Regions from separate parts of the Homo sapiens genome. Here region 2 is linked to region 1. The links come from fine-mapping of genetic effects on gene expression. Tissue or cell type: whole blood. Region 1 holds a variant in brackets; the other region holds the start of a gene. All regions are shown on one strand. Distances are from middle to middle.

Region 1 (6,897 bases):
AACAACAAAAATTTAGCATGTGGAATTGTTGCTTTGTGCAGCAATACTAAAATATTTTGGTCTGCTCTTTTATAAAATTACAAAAGCATATTAGAGAAAATTATTTGTGGACAACACCCATCTGCTTTAAGAGATATATTTTAACCCAAGATTTGAATTTTGCTTCTAAGTCACACCTTTGCCAACCTTAATATGAAGCTATTGATAATAATAATAATAATGGTAATAATAACAGTAGTAACTTATATTTATGGGGCATATACCATATGTCAGGCCTTGTTTTAAAAAGTATTAACTAATTCAGTTCTTCAAGACAAGTTTATAAGTACTTAGAGCTGGTAAAAGATGTCAAAAGGTAATTCTCTTAAAGAGCTATTATCATTTCTCATGATGCCAAACATAGTAATTTAGTTACGCAGTCTCAATATCTACTTCAGTTCTTCTTTAATCAGCGAATTATTTATAATTTTTAAAACTTAAATACACTTATTTTCGTAATTAAGTTTTTTAAAATCCCTGAGTAAATTGGTTTTGGGAATAGCTAGTATTAAAATGCTACTTTTAGGAGCATGTCCTGTAGAATACGTCTGTGCAAGTAGAAAGATAATTATATTTAAGTTAGTACAACTTTAAAGAATTTGTGAAAATTCTTTTAAAGAATTTTTTTGAAGGTTGTTGAGTACAGTGGTGTGTACCCTGTAGTCCCAGCTATTTAGGAGACTGAGGTAGGAGGAACGCTTGGACCCAGGAGTTGGAGAGCAACCTGAGCACCATAGTGAGACTCCATCTCTAAAAAATAAAAATAAATTTAAAAAATGTTTTTAAAAGCCAAAGGATAGTTTTTATTTTAATTAATTGCTTTTGATCAATTAAAATAACTCAGAACAGAGAATTCTCATTGATGGTTTCAAAAAAGATAGAGGTGGCAGGGTATGGTGGCTCACGCCTGTAATCCCAGCATATTGGGAGTCTGAGGTGGGCGGATCACCTGAGGTCAGGAGTTTGAGACCAGCCTGGCCAACATAGTGAAATGTCATCCCTCCTAAAAATACAAAAAAAAAAAATTAGCCAGGCGTGGTGGCGGTCACCTGTAATCCCAGCTACTCGAGAGGCTGAGGCAGGAGAATCGCTTGAACCCGAGAGGAGGAGGTTGCAGTGAGTGGAGATTGAGCCACTGAACTCCAGCCTGGGCGACAGTGCAAGACTCCAACTCAAAAAAAAAAAAAAAAAAGAGCGGTAATAATAGGTTAGAGTGTTTACCGCTGAAGAGCTGAGGTCCGTGTTGTTTCTGGTTTTATGACTTCCACATCAGTCCTAGAACAGAATTGGAAACATTGTATTTTTGATTTCTTCACTGCTTAAGCAAAGCATCCTTGGTGTTAGCATAAGCACTTAGTGATTAGTATTTAATCATCATGTTAACGAAGAAGAGAAATTGACTTTAAAAAATGATAAAATAAAATTCTTAGAATAAGGTTTGAAATATGCAGTGGAGGTAACACCTATTCATATTCACACAAGAAGACTTTACACTATCCTTGAGAAAGTAGATAATAGTCAAGATGATGGGGTTTGAAGCCTCATTAGATCTGGGTTGGAACTTTAAAAATCTTACCAGATTACCTATGCTGCCTCTGCCTCCGTTTCCCCACCTATCAGTGAAGGTAATAATTTTACTTGCCTTAGGTTGTCAGGAGAATCAAAGGAGACATGGTAGGCATGATTATTGTTACTTCCCTCAGTGACATTTTGATTCAAGCACTTAGTTCTGAATTTAATTTCAACTGTTTTCTGAATGCCAAGTTCTTGTTTGTTTGTTTTGCTTTCTTTAAAAATATAGGATTAACCAGTTCCTTGACCTCAGGACTCTGGATTGGACTTAACAGTCTGAGCTTCAACAGCGGTTGGCAGTGGAGTGACCGCAGTCCTTTCCGATATTTGAACTGGTTACCAGGTAGGGTTAAGCCTGTTTGTGTCGAATTAATCCAAATTTAAGTCATCTAGACGCCCCGAAGACGTTTATTATCTCACCTGTTGATCTCAAAGAGAAGAATTGGGAGACTTCATCAAATACAGTTCATTTCACCTTGTTTTGAAATCTATGCTAGATTTCCATTTACTGAATTGTAAGGTTATACCAGCTTCCTGGGATAGGGATTTGTCTGCCAGGATTCTCACACAAAACAATAAAGGTCTCTGTTTAAAGTTTCAGTTCTCAGAGTATCCCTGATGTGTTGGGTACTATATTCAAAAGCAGATGTTGTGGCTACTCTTAAACATGATTTACTAAATATGCTACTTGCATTGTTACTATATACTTGCTGTTGCATTGACTTTGTCAACATCCTTGAGAGGATTAGCCAACATCTCTTTGTAAAGTTTGACAAGTGGATTGAAATTATTTTGGGTTGGAGAGATTTTTTATGACTGTACCTTGAGTCATGAGGTATTTGCAATATTGCTGTCCTTGTGACAGTGATTTTAACATCTACATTAACACCCACTTTTCCTGTTTTTGATTTAATAACATCGGCTTAAAAATACTATCTCAGTTACAGCTTATGATATTCCATACTAGCATAAAAATTCATTAGAGGTTTCTCAACAGTAGTTTATAGAAAAACAGAGTTGGGGATGATAAAACCTACAACAGCTTTCTAATTTTTTTAGAGGATAGAAAATGCTGTGAACTAATTATTTCTACATTGTCATAACATGAAAGTAACAGAATATAAAATAAGTTTACATATTGAGCAACTATTTAGAGAAAACAAAAAAATGATATAAAGTTTTTCTTATTCACCAGTACCAACTGGCGTTAGTAGCCACTTGAGGCCTTCTATTGGGTATAAATTCAATCCCCACCCCTCAATCCCACCCCAGTGCCATTTTTTTTTTTTTTTTTTAGGAAAGAGTGCAATTAATGATTAGTGACGTCTGCCGTGGGTGTGGGAAAGGAGAGAAGTATCATATTGGTCACATCTTATCAAATCTCCTATGGGCCATACCATTATAATACGGTGTTCTTCAGACAGTCAGACTTCTCTTTTAAAGCCATTGAGTGGTTTTCGCATTTGGCTTAGAAAACTAAACTCTCCATTTTTGTTTGTTTGTTTGTTTTTGTTTTTGAGACAGGGTCTCACTCTGTTGCCCAGGCTGGAGTGCAGTGGCGCAGTCTCAGCTCACTGCAACCTCAGCCTTCCTGGCTCAAGTCATTCTTGTGCCTCAGCCTCCTAAGAGGCTGGGATTACAAGCATGCACCACCATGCCTGGCTAATTTTTTAATTTTTTGTAGTGATGGGATTTCCCCACATTGGCCAGGCCAGTCTCGAACTTCTGAACTCAAGTGATGTGGCCTGCCTCAACCTCCCAGAGTGCTGGGATTACAGGCGTGAGCCACTGCGCCTGGCGAAAATCTCCATTTTCTATATTGGTTTATTGTATTAAAAGAAGAAAAACTTCAATAAAATAATATTTCAAATAGATGCTAAAACACGAGAAAATTTTTAGAGAATATATTTTGGCTTAAATAAATTAGATTTTACTCTGAAATTCCAGTTTCAAAGCGTTACTTCAACATATGATGGTTACAGTGCTGTCACTCAAGTCTTGAGCCAATAATCAGTTCTATTTTTTTCTGGAACATGGAAGGTAAAAATTTCTGGAATATGGGAAGACTTACTGCAAGGGAATACATATAAAATATCCTTTTTTGTGCGTGAAAATTTAGGTGTCTGTCTACCT[A/G]TTCAGCCAGATGCAATTAGAGAATACTAGTTGGCCTCAATCAGATTATTAGACAATAAAACTTATTAGGGGACTAGAATTTATTCTTCTTTGTGTTGCTAAATTTTTATACATATTAGGCAGTCATTTAATTTATTCACTTGGGGGTGATGATTATATTTAACCGCTTGCATCCTACGAGTTCAGGGAGAAAACTTCCGGGTTAACTTTGGGTGGAGTAAAGAATGAAAGTGGAATATGATTAAGAAAGGGAAGCAAATGCTTTCTAAAATTAAACTTCAATTCCTAAGAAGTAGGTGCAAGATTAAATCACCTTGCGAAATAGTATGAGAGTTTCTTCCAACTAAAATTAGAGATCTTGTGGAAATTAAAAATCGGTTTCATATTTGTTCAGTCAAGCATTCAATTGAATAATTACCAAGTAATGAAAATATTAAAATATATTCACTTTTGAAGTGAGGATGTTTTGCATAAATGATGTACAAGTGTGAATTCAAATATATAATAACTATGGTAAACATCAAAACCACTAGTTGATGTCTCAAAGTTGAGAGAGGTATTGTATTGATAAATAAATGTGTAATATGATTTACTAATTAGCACATCAATTAATAACTTAGAGCTAGAAATGTATTTGTTTGAAAGTTTCTTTTTAGTGCTGATACCTTATCTGTTAGTTCAGTTATCCTGTTATTTTAGTTACAGTATCAGCAAATGTTTAAGATACCTTTATGCTTATTACTAACTTTATGATAACTTTATGCTTATTACTAACTTTAAGATAACTTTGGCCAGGTGCAGTGGCTCACGCCTGTAATACCAGCACTTTGGGAGGCTGAGGCGGGTGGATCCCGAGGTCAGGAGTTCAAGACCAGCCTGGTCAAGATGGTGAAACCCCGTCTATACTAAAAATACAAAAATTAGCTGGGCATGGTGTGGGCACTTGTAGTCCCAGCTACTCAGGAGGCTGAGGCAGAGAATTGCTTGAACCCAGGAGGTGGAGGTTGCAGTGAGCTGAGATCACGCCACTGGACTCTAGCCTGAGTGACAGAGCAAAACTCCATCTCAAAAAGAAAAAAAAAAGATAACTTAATGCTTATTACTAACCATTATTTTCTTTGTGTGGTAGTTAAATAAACTTTAAAAAAATCATTTAATTACCACACAAAGAATACCACCAAAACTTTAAAAAGGTTATTTAGGTTATTACCTGCTCCAGACTTTGTGGAGCAGGTAATATGATTTCCGTCTTGCAGGAAAGGAAGTGACATTCAGGCACAGGTTACATACACATTGGAGGTCACAAAGCATAGGTATTAACAGAATGTGGCTCATTCACCCTGTCTTCAGGTGGAAGGTGAAGCTAGTTTGGGGAGTACTGGTTTTTAAATCATATATTAGAGTAGCAAAACGCATGTGAAATGTATCAATGCCTACATTCATCCCTTTAGCAACGTTGACTTTATCTGGTTCTTTAATCAGTTTCCACTAAGAAATGGATAAGGCATAGCTGCTGAAAGTCTTCTTCAGTAGGCTGAGTTGAAGATATTGAGACAGTTTTAGTTCTGGGAGCACAGCATGCTGCCCATCTAGCTCTCCCATTAGCTTTTTCTCCTCCATTTATTTTTATTTTTATTTTTGAGACAGAGTCTCACTCTGTCACCCCGGCTGGAGTGCAGTGGTGTGATCTCCACTCACTGCAACCTCTGCCTCCCAGGTTCAAGCAATTCTCCTGCCTCAGCCTCCCAAGTAGCTGGGATTACAGGTGCCCGCCAGCTCCCCGGCCGATTTTTTTGTATTTTTAGTAGAAATGGGGTTTCATTATGTTGGCCAGGCTGATCTCGAATTCCTGACCTCAGTTGATCCATCCGCCTCAGCCTCCCAAAGTGCTGGGATTACAGGCGTGAGCCACCGTGCCCTGCCCTAATAATGTTTAGTGTGGCAGGTTTGGAACATCATGTATTCTTTCTTTTTAATAAATTCTACTTGTAGATTCAGAGATACATGTACACGGTTGTTACATACCTAGGTAAATTGCATGTTGCTGAGGTTTGGGATATAAATGATCCATCCCATCAACCAGGCAGTGAGCATAGAACCCAGTAGCTAGTTTTCCAAACTTTGTTACCCTCCATTCCTCCCCCATCTCATAGTCCCCAGTTTCTGTTGTTGCCATCTTTGTGTCCATGAGTACTCGGTATTTAGCTCCCACTTAGAAGTGAGAACATGGCTATTTGGCTTTCTGTTCTGCATTAATTCGCTTAGGATAATGGCCTCTAGTTGCATCCATGTTGCTGCAAAGGACATGATGATTTCATTTTTTTTTATGGCGGCATAATCATGCATTCTTTTCATTAGGTACCTCTCTTTGATAATGTAATCCGTTGTGACAACTGTTCAAGTTTTAAGGTGTAGCTTTATTAGCTGATAATGGGGGAAAGGGTTGTTTCAAAGAAGTATATTTGCTTTATCAACATTCTAAGTATTGGAATGATCCAACGATAAGAAAACAATAGACACCCATCGTGTCTTTTGCTCTGCAGTCAGTAAATATTTTTTTGTGAATGTGTAGCAAAAGACAGAATGGTGGTCCATTGAATCCCCAGGATGAAGACATGAGGAGACGTGGGAGGGATGCTATCTGCTGGGAATAGCTATAATAGTCCACTTTAACTTTTCCTTTTCCTCGAAGGAAGTCCATCAGCTGAACCTGGAAAAAGCTGTGTGTCACTAAATCCTGGAAAAAATGCTAAATGGGAAAATCTGGAATGTGTTCAGAAACTGGGCTATATTTGCAAAAAGGGCAACACCACTTTAAATTCTTTTGTTATTCCCTCAGGTAAGTGATCTATGGGATCTGAAGTGCCTCAACTATTAGAATTGAAAGATAAGTAACATTACAGCTTAGGTGTAACTGTTGGAATGCCGCCAGAGGTTTTGTGGATAGTTGATGGGGTAAACTTAATGATATTACTGCAATATTTCTGTGTGCTGGTTGCTAGTATTTCCTGAGTGTGCGGCGGTGTCTGGGCATTGTGGAGATCCTCTGACCTAAATAAAAATGTTACCTTCCCAATCAGTCCTCTGAGGTAGGTGTCATGATTCACATGCTATAGTTGAGGAAAAAGATATTCAGAGGATACAGAAACCTTG
Region 2 (6,897 bases), 33 kb before region 1:
CCTCTTTATCAAGCTCTCCCTTGGATGCTCCAAGTTTCTGACTAGACTAGTTCCCAAATACAGATGGTCCTTGACTTAGGATTGTTAGACATAATGATTTACCCACTTTATGATGATGTGAAATAGAAATGGTGCATTCAGTAGAAAATGTATTTCGAATACCCATACACCCATTCTGCTTCTCACTTTTAGTACCATATCCAATAAATTACGAGATACTCAACACTGTATTATAAAATAGGTTTTGTTAGATGATTTTGAAATAGAAGAGTTCCCTTATGACCCTCGCAGGGGGTGCGACAGGAATGAGGCTTGCTCCTTTGGTGCCCTGCTGCTCAAACCCCTAGGGGGGAGCATGCAGCATGCAGATGGGCAGGTGCAGAGGCTGTGGGGAGTGCTTTTGGGCTCCACCCCACGGCAGCATCTAGGACTCCTGAAGCCCAAGTGGGCGTGTGTTACAGTGTGCTCTTTCAGCTATACCATCTGCAGACAGCTTGTGTTAGTCAGCTCAATAGACCCTCTGCCTTATCACAAGGACAGGGAGGCAGTGTGACAGCCTGAGTTCTTGCCCAGTGTACTGGAAGAATCAGATCACATGTGGGCTGGAGGGTTGAGTGCAAGGTTTTATTGAGTGGTGTAGGTGGCTCTCAGCGAGATGGATGGGGAACTGGAAGTGGGGAGTGGAGTGGGAAGGTGGTCTTCCCCTGGAGCCAGGCTGCCTAACCCCCCAGACTATTCTCCAACCACTGCTGGCCAAACTCCCCTTGGTGTCCAGATGTCCTTCTTCTCTCTTTCTCTGCTGCGCCACCCCACTGCTCTCCACTGCTCTATTCCTTCACTCTTCTCAATGTTTAGCGCTTGTGTCTATGCCCATTAAGGTCTCAGGTTTTTATGGGCACAGGATGCGGGGTGTGGTGAATCATAGTGGTCTTGGAAATGTAACATTTGCGCATGAAAACAGGAGTGCCTGTTCCCACTTAGGTCCGTGGGCACAGGTCCGAGGGTGGAGCCCTCGCCAGGGATCCTGCCCTTCTCTACCTAGCACTTCTCTGCCTCCTGTCCCTATCAATTTTGCCCAGTTGGAAGCTAATGTAAGTGTTCTCAACACGTTTAAGGTAGGCTACGCTGAGCCGTGATGTTTGGTAGGTCAGGTGTATTAAGTGCATTTTTGACTTAGCATATTTCAACTCACATTGGGTTTAACAGGGCCTAATTTGATCATGAGTAGAGGAGCACCTGCAGTTACTTCAGTCAGTTCCTGTCCATTTGATGGCTGCTTAGATGGAGGGATGAATTCCTGGAGTTTCCCACACCACCATCTTCTGTGACATCCCTTCCCCAAGATTTGGATTTATTTTTTGCCCCAGTGGCCTCTTGTAGCCTGATAAATCTTTGTTTCAACGAGGTCAAGGTCATGGGGTAAATTCTTTGTGGGGTGGTTGGCTGCATTTTGTTTAAACTTCACAGATTTTAGTACTGATCCTAATTTTTAATTTTACTAATGTGATATACACACTTATGTAATTAAAAAACAAACCCTGGGCCAGGTATGGTGGCACACGTCTGTAATCCCAGCACTTTCAGAGGCCAAGGCGGGCGGATCACTTGAGGTCAGGGGTTTGAGACCAGCCTGGCCAACATGGTGAAACCCCGTCTATACTAAAAATGCAAAAAATAGCTGGGCATCATGGCACGCGCCTGTAATCCCAGCCACTTGGGAGGCTGAGGTAGGAGAATCGCTTGAACCCGGGAGGTGGAGGTTGCAGTGAGCCCAGATTGCACCACTGCACTCCAGCCTGGGCGACAGAGCAAGACTCTGTCTCAAAGAAACAAACCAACCCTGAATGTGATTATATACATAATTCAATTAAATGTATTTGCTTCTGAAATATATATAAATGTAAATTAGGCAGTCACTTTTGTATATGATTTATTTATATTTGAAAGCCACAAATGACCCATTTAAACTATTATTTTCATAAGCCAGTGAAACAATGTCTGAGAAACATTTTTGTTTTGTCTGTTCTGTTCTATAACCATCATTTTTTTTTTCAGTCATGTACAGCCTTAGTGACAAAGAAACTTTGGTCCTCTGTCCTACATTTTCACTATCTTTTTCCCTCCGGTCAGGATAATCTCAAATTTACATGTTAAAAACAATCAGTAAGAGAACTACATCACATTTCTAATAGGATGGAAACTTTTCAACTTTATCACAAAGACAACGAATGTGGAGGCTTTCCGTTTGAAGATAAAACTATTCATTTAAAAAATTTTAAAAATTACAATGTTTCCAGTAGCTTCTTTTTGAATTACTAACATATTCCACACTCTAGTAACGGTTTGGCCAGCTAATCGTTAGTTTCTGCTTTAAAATGTTCTAAATTCCTGTTCTACTTTTGAAAAATGACAACATAAATGTTTGGAGGGTTATTTTCTGCTTAATGAAAGATCTAGAAACATATTTTATTCTAAGAAAGAATTCCACTTGCCTTTAAATAAAGATATACCTTTTGACCAAACAATCAGATTTTCTTTTTCTTTTTTTTCTTTTCTTTTTTTTTTTTGAGATGGAGTTTCGCGTCTGTCGCCCAGGCTGGAGTGTAGTGGTGCGATCCTGACTCACTGTAACTTCCACTTCCCAGGTTCAAACGATTCTGTTGCCTCAGCCTCCTGAGTAGCTGGGCTTACAGGTGTGCATGATCACACCCGGCTAACTTTTGTATTTTTAGTAGAGACGGGTTTTTGCCATGTTGACCAGGCTGGTTTCAAACTCCTGACCTCGGGTGATCTGACTGCCTCGGCCTCCCAAACTGCTGGGATTGCAGGCGTGAGCCATTGTGCCTGGCCAGATTTTCTTTTTCTAGCAAGGGGACCCACTTAAACTTGAAGAGGACCGGGATGGTTGAGGCTGGGCAGCAAGGCTTTACTGCAAATCCTTTACCACTGTTTTTTCTGGCTTTCTAGAGAACGTTCTAGCAAAAGGTTTCTAGAACTTTCTCCTTCCTGGCCTGACTGACATTCCCTCTTAGGTGTAGCCTCCTTTTCACTTTTCTTCTGCCTGGAGGAAATGAAGCTCCACGGAACTTTCTGTTGAAACTTTCCAAGAAAAAAAAGAAAGGCTCTAAGCACTGAATGTGGAAACTGAAGGGGATGAGCTTCAACTCTGAAGTGTTTCCAGCGTAAAACTGTCCTTTCCAGGGCCCGTGTGGCTGTCACTTCAGAGTGGAGGTTGTCTGCTGAGGGACCCCTGACTCAGCTGCTTCCCAGGGGAAGCTCCGTCTTCCGGCACAGGTAATGGCCTGCAGCTTGATCTCCACCCAGCCCCATCTGAGCAGGCCGGGAGCTCCCAGGCTGTTTCACTTCTCTCCTTCCTGACTCCTCACCATCACCATCGCCCTCTCTCCTCCCCACCCCGCCACTCCTCTCCCACACGTGTCCCTTTCTCCCCTTCCTCTGCGTCTGCTCTTCTCAGAAGTTAGCTTACGAAGCAAAGTTGTTACTTTGAATTCCTGTTTTTCCAGCCACCCTCATGTGACAGGATGTCTCCTCAGTAGAGGCTTTCCCTAAATTCAGGAGCCCTTTAAAAGGGAGGGCTTCCTCTGTAGTTCTTTTCAGCTGGGCAGCTCTGGGAACTTGGATTAGGTGGAGAGGCAGTTGGGGGGCCTCGTTGTTTTGCGTCTTAGTTCCGCCCTCCTGTCCATCAGGAGAAGGAAAGGATAAACCCTGGGCCATGAGGCTACCCCTGCTCCTGGTTTTTGCCTCTGTCATTCCGGGTGCTGTTCTCCTACTGGGTAAGTCTGCTCTGAGGCAGGGGATCTCTGACCTGGGGGGCCGGAACCACACCTTCCTCTTCTGGGTTACTGTGAATGGGTTCCTTTCAACATCTTTGTGAGGAGGAAACGGGGTTCCCCTGCACCACGCAGTCCACGGCTAAGCCTGCTGCCTTCACCTGGCGGCCAGGCATGGGAGGCCTGGAGTTGGAGGAGGGAGGAGGATGCGTCTCAGGTCTCGGTTGCTGCCCTGCCGGGAACCCTACAGACCTTCAGTGTCCTCCTGACTTCTCTCATCGCTCGTTGTTCCTTCCCTGTTTTCTTCGTGCAGAAATTTCCTGCTCTGTGGTTTACTCTTTCTGGTTTTCAATTCACACTATTTCTGTCTCACCGCCAACAAACACCTTCTGAGTGTCTCTGGCTGGAAGGAGGGCAGCCCTGATGTCTCCCCGCGTCTTAGGTCCGAGGGTATCATCGCAGATCATCCCCCCAAAAGAGATTCTAAGCAATTTCCATACTCATTTTTTTTTCTGCCAGAATCATTCAGACACTTGATTGTTAGAAAGTTCATCCTTATCTGTATTCTAGACTATTCAAACTGCCGCATAAGCAGATCGATTCCTGTTTTTCTTCTTTTTCTGGAGATTAGAGATTACTCATTAGGAACAGCTCCAGAGTTGTTCAAATTCTCAAATACCTTTTCCAGTCTGTCTTTTCTATTTCTCTATACTCAGTTGCTTAAACTTCAGGATGGGAGTGCCTCGGGGGATTTTCATTCCTGGTTCTATTTGGAGATGATTTAGAAGAGATTTCAAATTTGATTTTTTGATTTCTGATCCCCCTTTAATTCTATGAAATCAACAAACACTTGCAGAGAATGGTTTGTGCCTACGATCTACTCTATGCACTGATGTGAAGGCGGGTGGGAAGTTTCCTAGGAAGAGAGTGTTTTAGTACCGCAAATGTTAAATCATAAGTATTGAGTGGTAGTGATTACAAAAACACAAGTGAAGGCGGTATGGTTTACATCCTGTCTCTCTCACTCACTAGCTTTGCGACCTTGGGCAGGCTACTTTATTTCTTTGTGCTTTAGTTTCCATGTCTATAAAATGGAAAGAATAATATTACCTGCCCCCATCAGTTCTTGTGATGATTCAATGAGTAACAATATGTGAAATGTTTAGAACAGAGTATGACCCATAGTAAGTGCCTTATAAGTGTTAGCTATTAAAATCAGTGGCAGAAAAGAAGTACATAAAAGGCCAAATAAAAAGGATAGATGAAATTAATTTTATTTTTATTTTTGAGACAGATTCTCATTTTGTTGCCCAGGCTGCAGTGCAGTGGCATGATCTTGGCTCACTGCAACCTCTACTTCCTGGGTTCGAGTGATTCTCCTGCCTCGGCCTCCCAAGTAGCTGGGATTACAGGCATGCACCACCATGCCCAGCTGATTTTTGTAGTTTTAGTAGAGACAACGTTTCACCATGTTGGCCAGGCTGGCCTCGAACTCCTGACCTCAAGTGATCTGCCCTCCTCAGCCTCCCAAAGTGCTGGGATTATAGGCATGAGCCACAGCGCCCAGCCCTGATATTATTAATGTATTTTATTTCACCCAGTAACTCGGAAATATTATCCCTCAACATTTAATCGATTTGGAATATTTTCCCATTCATTTCTTAAAACTAACTCTTCAAAATCTGGTGAGTATTGCATACTTATAGCATGTCTCAATTCACAGTAGTGTCATTTTAAGTGTACAATGGTTACATGAGGTGACTGGCTATCATACTGGGCAGCACAGACACAGTGCCTAATTTTCTTTAAACTGACTCAATAATGCTTTGAGCAATAGTGTTTCTCGGTTTGCTCAGGAGTGTTTCCCTCTTCCTGACAGCAGGATGCCCTCCTCTGACTAATGTCTTCCTCTTCATAGGCACAAATATTGGGGAGAGAAGGGGGATGCTGAAGATCTGTTTACTTGGAGAATAAACAAACAAAAAATTCAAGGGACCCCCCTTCCAGATTTTTTTTTCCTACGTGAAAGCCTGTAATTTGTGTTGTTTTGTTTTTTGAGACTGGTTTCACTCTGTCACCCAGGCTGGAGTGCAGTGGTGTGATCATGGCTCACTGCAGCCTTGACATCTGGGCTCATGCAATCCTCCCACCTTGGCCCACTCCCAACTCCCCAGTAGCTGGGACTTTGGGCTTGAGCCACTATGCCAGGCTAATTTTTAATTTTTTTTATTTTTTTTTATTTTTGTAGAGATGGGGTCTCACTATCTTGCTCAGGCCGATCTCAAACTTCTGGGCTCTGGTGATCCTCCCACTTTGGCCTCCCATAGTGCAGGATGATAGATGTGAGCCACTGCACCCAGCCTGTAACTTTTATTTTATCTTTTCTTGGCCCGAGAAGCATGTGATTGGAGGAATTTGTGTAAAGGCAGGGCACCTGCTTAGTTAGCAGCAGGTTAAACTATGCGAAGCCCCAACACCTCTCCCCTGGCTTCCTGCCCACTAGGAAAACCCATGGGAAGGTCTCCCTACTTGCCATCAGTTTATTTCTTTTCAATCCACACCCCTTCCTTCCACCTTCAGGAGAGCATCCCACAGCATTAGCACCATAAGTCTCTGTGGGCTGCTGCCAACGGATGGGCTGGTTCTCCCTGGAGGGGTCCAGGAGTCTAGAGGTTAACAGGGCTAGACGCTCACCTTTCCTACTGTTGTTCTTGCCGCACTATCTTTTTAGCACTCAGCAGCAAGGTTTCCAGCTCAGTTGGGTTATAATCATGGTAGATGCACCATGAGAGCCGGTGGGACACAGAGGTTAGACCACAGCAAAGAAGTTTAACTTGGAAATGGGAGGGTTTGGCTCACAGGTAGTGGTGTATTGGCAAACAACTACTGGTTCCAAGAAGGAAAAGAAAGGAAGCACTGATTTGACTTATGCTGTTTTGCTGTTTACTGATGTCCATGCTGTAAATATTCCCACCATGGTTGATTTCAAGCTACTGACTTGATGCCCCTGGGGGCAGAGTTGGGAAGAGATGCCAACAGTAGGCTTTTTTTTTTTTTTTTTTTTTTGAGATGGAGTCTCTCTCTGTCACCCAGCCTTGAGTGCAAT

Evidence for each region. PIP is the estimated chance that this variant, and not a neighbour inherited with it, causes the effect.
Region 2: MRC1 starts here. The variant in region 1 is the best candidate, but not a certain one, in a credible set for the expression of MRC1 in whole blood (INTERVAL, PIP 0.56).

Annotation. Positions count from the first base shown.
Region 1 is chr10:17,838,853-17,845,749 of GRCh38, forward strand. It overlaps MRC1 (mannose receptor C-type 1), which reads left to right. Exons shown (of 30, transcript NM_002438.4): 5 at 1,841-1,954; 6 at 6,437-6,583. MIR511 (microRNA 511) reads left to right here and starts at 6,255; the gene lies at 6,255-6,341. The variant A/G (reference allele first, on the strand shown) is at 3,745.
Region 2 is chr10:17,805,733-17,812,629 of GRCh38, forward strand. It overlaps MRC1 (mannose receptor C-type 1), which reads left to right and starts at 3,616. Exons shown (of 30, transcript NM_002438.4): 1 at 3,616-3,794. The coding sequence starts at 3,734.